2 linked regions of the Homo sapiens genome follow. The protein of the gene in region 1 purifies or fractionates together with the protein of each later gene. This does not show direct contact. Each region holds a gene or a part of one and is shown on either strand. Other genes may lie near its edges.

Region 1 (3,500 bases):
ATTTTACAAGTCTTTCATCTTGGTTAAGTTAATTTCTAACTATTTTATTATTTTTGATGCTATTGTCAATGGAACCATTTTTGTAATTTCTTTTTCTGATTGTTCATTGTTAGTGTATAGAAATGGAAGTATTTTTTGTGGTTGGCTTCGTATCCTGCTAATATGCTAATTTTATTTGTTCTAATAGTGTTTCATCTTTAGGGTTTTCTGCATATAAAATCATACCATTTGTGAGTAGAGATAATTTTACTCCTTCTTTCCAATTTGAATGTCTTTTATTTCTTTTTCTTGCCTCCTTGCTCTATTAACTTCTAGTAATGTGTTGAATAGAAGTGGCAAAAGCAGAAATTCTTGCCTTCTTCCTGATCTTATAGAAAAAGGTTTCAGTCTTTCACCATTGAGTATAATGTTTGCTGTGGGTTTTTCATATATGGCTTTTACTATGTTGAGGTAGTTTCCTTCTATTCTGAGTTTGTTGACTGTTTTTATCATGAAAGCTTGTTGAATTTTGTCATGTGCTTTTTTCTGCATCAATTGAGATGATGATGTAGGGTTTTTTTCATTCTCTTATGAACCCCAAAAATCTGAGACAGGTCTCAGTCAATTTAAGAAGTTTCTTTTGCCAAAGTTAAGGATGCACGCCCAGGAGACAGGTCTATGCCTTTCTCTGAACATGAATTTTAGGGTTCCAAATTTAAAGGGGAAAGGGCAGGATATTGAGAAGTACACAGTTTTCAGGTAAGAGCAGGGTAGGGGGAAATAGTCATTCAAGCATTTGTCTGGCTCAGTGAATTTGCATTTTTACGTAAGGTAACATAGGGCAGGGGAAAATGCAGGGAACCTGCATTTTTACGTAAGATAACAAAGACAAATGGGGCAGGGGAATAATCAGATATGCATTTGTGCCAGGTGGGCAGAGGGGTGATGCCTCTGTAAAGATAAGCTATCCATTTACATTGCCGTGGTGAATTTTATCAGACAACTATCTTGGAGCTCACCAGGAATTTCCTTGTGGGCAAAATATGGGAGAGGTGTGTAGCTTTTCATCTTGTAGCCATCTTATTTAGGAACCAAAACGGGGAGGCAGGTTTGCGTGACCCAGTTCCCAGCTTGACTTTTCCGTTTGGCTTAATGAGTTTGGGGTCCCAAGATTTATTTTCCTTTCACACTGTTAATGTAGTATATTGCACCGACTTTCATATGTTGAACCATCCTTGTCTGTGTATTTCAATGACAAGAGGTGTTTGTTTCTGCTTCCTGCAGAGCAGAAAGACCATGGGTTTGAGGTGGCCTCCACTTCCCCTGAAGACGAGTCCCCTGGCAGTAACCCCGAGCCAGATGCCACCCCGTTCCAGGAAGGTTTGAGGACCTTCGACCAGCTGGACGCCATATCTAGTTTGCCCACACCCAGTGACATCTTTGTGTCCTACTCTACTTTCCCAGGTGAGCACATCAGAAGGGCTCGTCCTCGCAGCCAGTGGGTCTTCCCGTCTGCCCTAGAGGCAGCTGTGTGGTGAGAGAAAAGACCAGGGTATGAGTCCTGGTTCTGTCTTTTGCCCCTCTGTGACCCTGAGCAAGTTACTTCTCTCTGAGCCTCGGCTCAGGCTGAGCGGGCAAGGATGCGCGCTGCAAGGAGGCCTGCGCCCTTGGGTTCCTATGCCTCACTTGCCTCTCCTCTGCCTGACCCTGCCTCTGCCTTCGCATCTTTAGCAGGGGAATAGGAATCGTGCCTCAGGGGTTTCCATGGGAATTAAACAAGGTGGCTGGCACGTCACTGAGCACAGTGCGGGGCACGTAGTAGTTGCAGCAAGCGGTAGTTTCCTTCCTTCTTTTTTTTTTTTTTTTTTTTTTTTGAGATGGAATCTCGCTCTGTTGCCCAGGCTGGAGTGCAGTGGCGCGATCTTGGGTCACTGCAAGCTCTGCATCCCGGGTTCACACCATTCTCCTGCCTCAGCCTCCCAAGTAGCTGGGACTACAAGCACCTGCCACCACGCCTGGCTAATTTTTTGTATTTTTAGTAGAGATGGGGTTTCACCGTGTTAGCCACGATGGTCTCGATCTCCTGACCTCGTGATCCACCTGCCTCGGCTTCCCAAAGTGCTGGGATTACAGGCGTGAGCCACCGCGCCCAGCCTTTTTTTTTTTTTTTTTGAGACGGAGTCTTGCTTTGTCGCCCAGGCTGGAGTTCAGTAGCATGATCTCAGCTCACTGCAACCTCCACCTCCCGGGTTGAAGTAATTCTCCTGCCTTAGCCTCCTAAGTAGCTGGGATTACAGGCATGCATCACCACACCCAGCTAATTTTTGTATTTTTAGTAGACACAGGGTTTCACCATGTTGGCCAGGCTGGTCAAGAATTCCTGACCTCAAGTGATTTGCCCACCTCGGCCTTCCAAAATGCTGGGATTACAGGTGTGAGCCACTGTGCCTGGCAGTTTCCTTCCTTTCTTATGTCTTGGATGAGTCACTTGACTTTTCCAAGCCTTGGTTTCCTTGCTGGGAAAACAGGAATTATAGCCGGAATCAGGGGATGGTCATGAGGGTGAAATAAGATCATGATTAGGGCAGAGCCTCAGGGGCCAGGCTGCTCCTGTTGGATGTATGTATGAGTCAAGGTCTGGAGGGCGCCCGAGCCAGCGTGCATGGCCAGAGGGGTGGTGGGGAGCCGGCGGAGGGGTGGCTCTCCAGCAGTGTTCAGCCCTCCTCCCTCCAAAGGTTTTGTTTCCTGGAGGGACCCCAAGAGTGGCTCCTGGTACGTTGAGACCCTGGACGACATCTTTGAGCAGTGGGCTCACTCTGAAGACCTGCAGTCCCTCCTGCTTAGGGTGAGTGCTGCCTTCCTCTGCAAAGGAGAGGGGAGGCTGCTGAGGGGCAGCGTGTCCTCCTGGGGCTGGGGATTTGGGGTGAGCAGGGCAGGCCCAAACCAAGGGTAAAAGGTAGTAGACTCCTGCCTCTGAGCCTTGGAGTCGGCACTTTTGTGTCTCTTTATGAGAGGCATCCTGCCTGTGGTGACGTTTGCCCTTTATTCAAAGAGTTGCCTTCCCTGTCTCCTCCAAGGTCCCCAGGTTGACACCTCCCGCTCCTCCACTGATGGAGCTGGTCCTCAGTGCCAGCGCAGGATGGCTCTGTCCAGACCCTGAAGGCGGGTCATGGGCCCCTCCCTATATCCTGTGGGCATCATGTAGTCTTCTACTCTTGACCCTCAAGAATTGTGAACCCCTCCTTGTACATCGCCTTCTCAGGAGGCCCCAGTGAGGAAACAGATAGGGAAGGGTGGCCTGATAGGCCCAGTCCTACTCCATAGAAACCCGACTCAGAGCAGTTGCTTCCTCTGAGGGTCCTGTGGCCTTGTGGCTGCCTTGGGAGGCAGCATGTATGGGCCCCAGCTGCTCTGCTCAGGTATTCATGCCACGAGAAGGGGCTGCGAGGCTGGGGCCACTCCTGGCTCCTTGCAAATATTTCAGTCTGATTTGAACTTTATGAATTTGGAAATTTTGAATT
Region 2 (3,500 bases), on another chromosome or scaffold:
AAAAATGAGAATTTCCCTTTTTACCTTTTCTCTCCCTCAACACAAAATACCTATCCTTTCCCACTCCTCGCATTGTAGTTACATCACAATTTTTGGTTAAATCAATATTCTGTGTCTTTCGGTGATTGTGATGGACTATAAAGTTGAAAGAACCATACTATGGACACTCATACACCCACAATCTAGATTCGATGATTAACCTTAACATTTGGCTATAATTGCTTCATGACGTCTATCCATCTTTCACTTCATTTTAGTTTTTAAATCACTTCAAAGTGAGTTGCAAATGGGAGTCATTTGACCCCTAAATACTTTAGCACGTATTTCATCAACTAGAGCTATCATTTGTGTATGGTTATTCTTTTCATATAAAATTTACATATCATAAAATCACCGGTCTGCACCATTCAGTGGATTTTGACCAGGGTTTGGCAAACTTTCTAAGGGAGCAGATAGCAAATATTTTTGGCTTTGCAGGGGTTATAGTCCCTGAGGAAACTTAATGAGAACTTTTTATACAATGGTCCCTGTCACAGCTACTCAGCTGTGCTGTTGTAGCATGTTAGCAGCCATAGACAATACTTAAATTCATAGGTATGTCTGTGTTCCAATAAATTTTTTTTTTTTACCAAAACAGGTGGTGGGCTGTATTTGACCTGCAGGATGCATGATGTGATTTGTCCAATCTTTGTCAGTTACATACATCTGTGTAACCTAAACTCTTACCAAGATATAGAGAAATTACTATCAGCGTGGAAAGTTTTCTCATGCCCTTTTGTAATTAATCTCTGCCCCCGTGCCCTAGTGACAACCACTGTTTCTTTTTCATCTGAGATTAGCTTTGCCCATGTTTGAGTGTCAAATAATGGAATCATGCAATATGTGCATTTTGGTGAAACACTTTTACTTAGCATAATCTGGAGATTGAATTATGTTGCATATACTGGTGATTTGTTGCTTTTTGTTGCTGGGTAGTATTCCATTGTATAAATTTGCCTCACTTTATCCATTTTCCTGTTGATGAATACCTGGGCTATTTTTGTTTTTTTTTTGTTTTTGTTTTTGTTTTTTTAAGACAGGGTTTTGCTCTGTTGCTCAGGCTGGAATGCAGTGGATCAATCATGGCTCATTGCAGTGTTGACCTCCCAGCTCAAACAGTTCTCCCAGCTCAGATTCCTGAGTAGCTAGGACACACAGGCCCGGGCCACCACACCTGGGTAATGTGTTCTGGTTTAGAGATGGAGTCTCACTTTGTCACCCAGGCTGGTCTTGAACTCCTGGGCTCCAAGTGATCCTCCCGCCATGGCCTCTCAAAGTGCTGCCACCATGCCTGGCTTAGTTCTAGTTTTTGGTTATAATAAAATAATTTGACCATTGTGAACCTTCTTCTACAAGACTTTTTGTGGACATATGTTTTCATTTCTCTTGTCTAAATACGTAAGTATGGAATTGCAGCGTCATAGGGTAGGTACCTGATTGGTTTTTTAGGGAAACTCATGGGAACTTTTCCCAAGATGGTGAACCTTTTTGCACACCCCCCAGTGATGCATTAGTAATCTGCTTGCTCTATTCAAGATTTGGCTTATCAATCTTTTATACTTTTTTTTTGAGACAGTCTTGCTCTGTCACCCAGGCTGGAGTGCAGTGGTGTGATCTTGGCTCACTGAAACCTCCCCGCCTCCCAGGTTTAAGGGATTCTTGTGCCTCAGCCTCCTGAGTAGCTGGGATTACAGGCATGCACCACCACACCTGGCTAACTTTTGTAATTTTAGTAGAGACAGGATTTTGCCATGTTGGCCAGGCTGGTCTTGAACTTCTAGTCTCAAGTAATCTGCCCACCTCGGCCTCCCAAAGTGCTGGGATTATAGATGTGAGCCACTGCGCTGCTAGCTTGTCAGTCTTTAAAATTTTAGCCGTTCTGGTGGGTGTGTACGATTTTTCATTTGCTTTTAATTTTAATTTTCATTTTCTGATAATTATGTTGAGCAGTCTTTCATGTACGATTGTTATTATTAGCTATTTGTATATTTTCCTTTGTGGGGTCCTCTGATTATCTTTTATGTAGATTTTTTTTCTTGGAGTTTATAATTTCACTGCCTTGGTTTTTAGTTTACTTAATTTTGTATGTATTCATCAGTAAATTATCTCCAGACTTTTAAACATAGCTCCAGAACTCTTCTAAAGAAGTTTAAACACCACAGGGAGTTTAGCTTATAAAGGTTTTATGTAAGGTAACAGTATACTTAGTTGTTTTGCTTTATATTTCTTTTGAAATAATAATTTTAAAAATATTTAATTTTTAATGGATTCAAGTTTTATCACTTTTTCCCTTTGTGATTTGTACTTCAGAAATTTAAGGAGTTATTCCTACCTTAAGGTCAAAAAGAGAATTCTGTGTCTTTTTTAAATTTAAAAATTTTTCTTTTACATTTAAGTATTTGAGATACCTATTAGATTGCCAGTCAGACTCACAAGAATCAGAGGTCTTACCCAGTGTTAATCTTTAAAAATTGAAACAGTTTAAGTGATCATGAGGCATAGGTGAAATATGAAGTCCAAGACTGCCAGATCTCTGAGTCCTTCCTTGCCTCTTTAGAGTGTGTTCTGTCCCAGACTTAACCTGTGAGGTTTCTAAGTGATGTATACAGTCACATAAACAGAAGAGTGCTCTGCAAACATCTTGATTCTATGCTCTTAACAGGTAAATTAATATAACATTTTTCAGAAAGCTGTACCATTAGATCTGTAGAATCTCGGCTTGTTTACTGTAATCCTATATACTTCGGGGACATTCATCTAAAAGCATTACTTAGATGAGGGCTCTCCCACTGGCAAATACCATTGATGTTTTTTCTGGAGGTTTGTCATTACCATATTTAAAGGATGATTTGACTGGACCACCTTTTCCCTACCTCCAACCCTCTCTCTCCCTGCTTCATTTCTTTTTAATGTTTAATCTGTATAAGTGGTATGATATAGGCATTCAGGGTATTTTTTTTTTAAAATGTGAATTACCATACTGTTTTCATATATGTATGGATGTTTGAATTCTCTATAGTTTTCCTTTGATCTCTGTGTCTGTCTTTCTACTTGTAAATTTAATGCATTTTAAATAAAATGTTTGAAATAAATTACTTCTCATTTAAAAATTGTCAAGAAAGTTATCAAAATAATCTGATATTATCTATTTAAAATGTTATTTATTTCAATAGACTGAACCTCCATTGAATACTCCAGAAAACAGGGAATATACTGCTGAAATAATGTTTGAGTCCTTCAATGTTCCAGGCTTGTACATTGCTGTGCAGGTAAGCAAGTTCATACTTTCTAAGTTTGATTCTTACATTTTAACCTAGTTTAATTTGCTGCCTAAAATACGTACTTTTTTTTTTTTTCTGCAAAGGTTTAAACATAATGTCAAAGCATGTTATACTTCTCTCCTGAATTGTTAATTTAGAAGTAATATTATGGGAAGTGGAGATATTTAGTCAGGAAAAGAG

Evidence for each region. Proteins that work in one complex are often made in the same cells at the same time.
Region 2: the proteins of CASP9 (region 1) and ACTR3 purify together in Homo sapiens (affinity purification with mass spectrometry; one large-scale study listed by BioGRID and IntAct). This does not show direct contact.

What each region holds. Positions count from the first base shown.
Region 1 is NC_000001.11:15,493,216-15,496,715, reverse strand, and holds part of CASP9 (caspase-9 isoform alpha precursor), read left to right. Parts: intron 1-1,263; coding exon 1,264-1,443; intron 1,444-2,714; coding exon 2,715-2,824; coding exon of another isoform or gene 2,825-2,932; exon of another isoform or gene 2,933-3,500. UniProt on the Homo sapiens protein: Involved in the activation cascade of caspases responsible for apoptosis execution. Binding of caspase-9 to Apaf-1 leads to activation of the protease which then cleaves and activates effector caspases caspase-3 (CASP3) or caspase-7 (CASP7).
Region 2 is NC_000002.12:113,928,089-113,931,588, forward strand, and holds part of ACTR3 (actin-related protein 3), read left to right. Parts: intron 1-3,212; coding exon 3,213-3,308; intron 3,309-3,500. UniProt on the Homo sapiens protein: ATP-binding component of the Arp2/3 complex, a multiprotein complex that mediates actin polymerization upon stimulation by nucleation-promoting factor (NPF).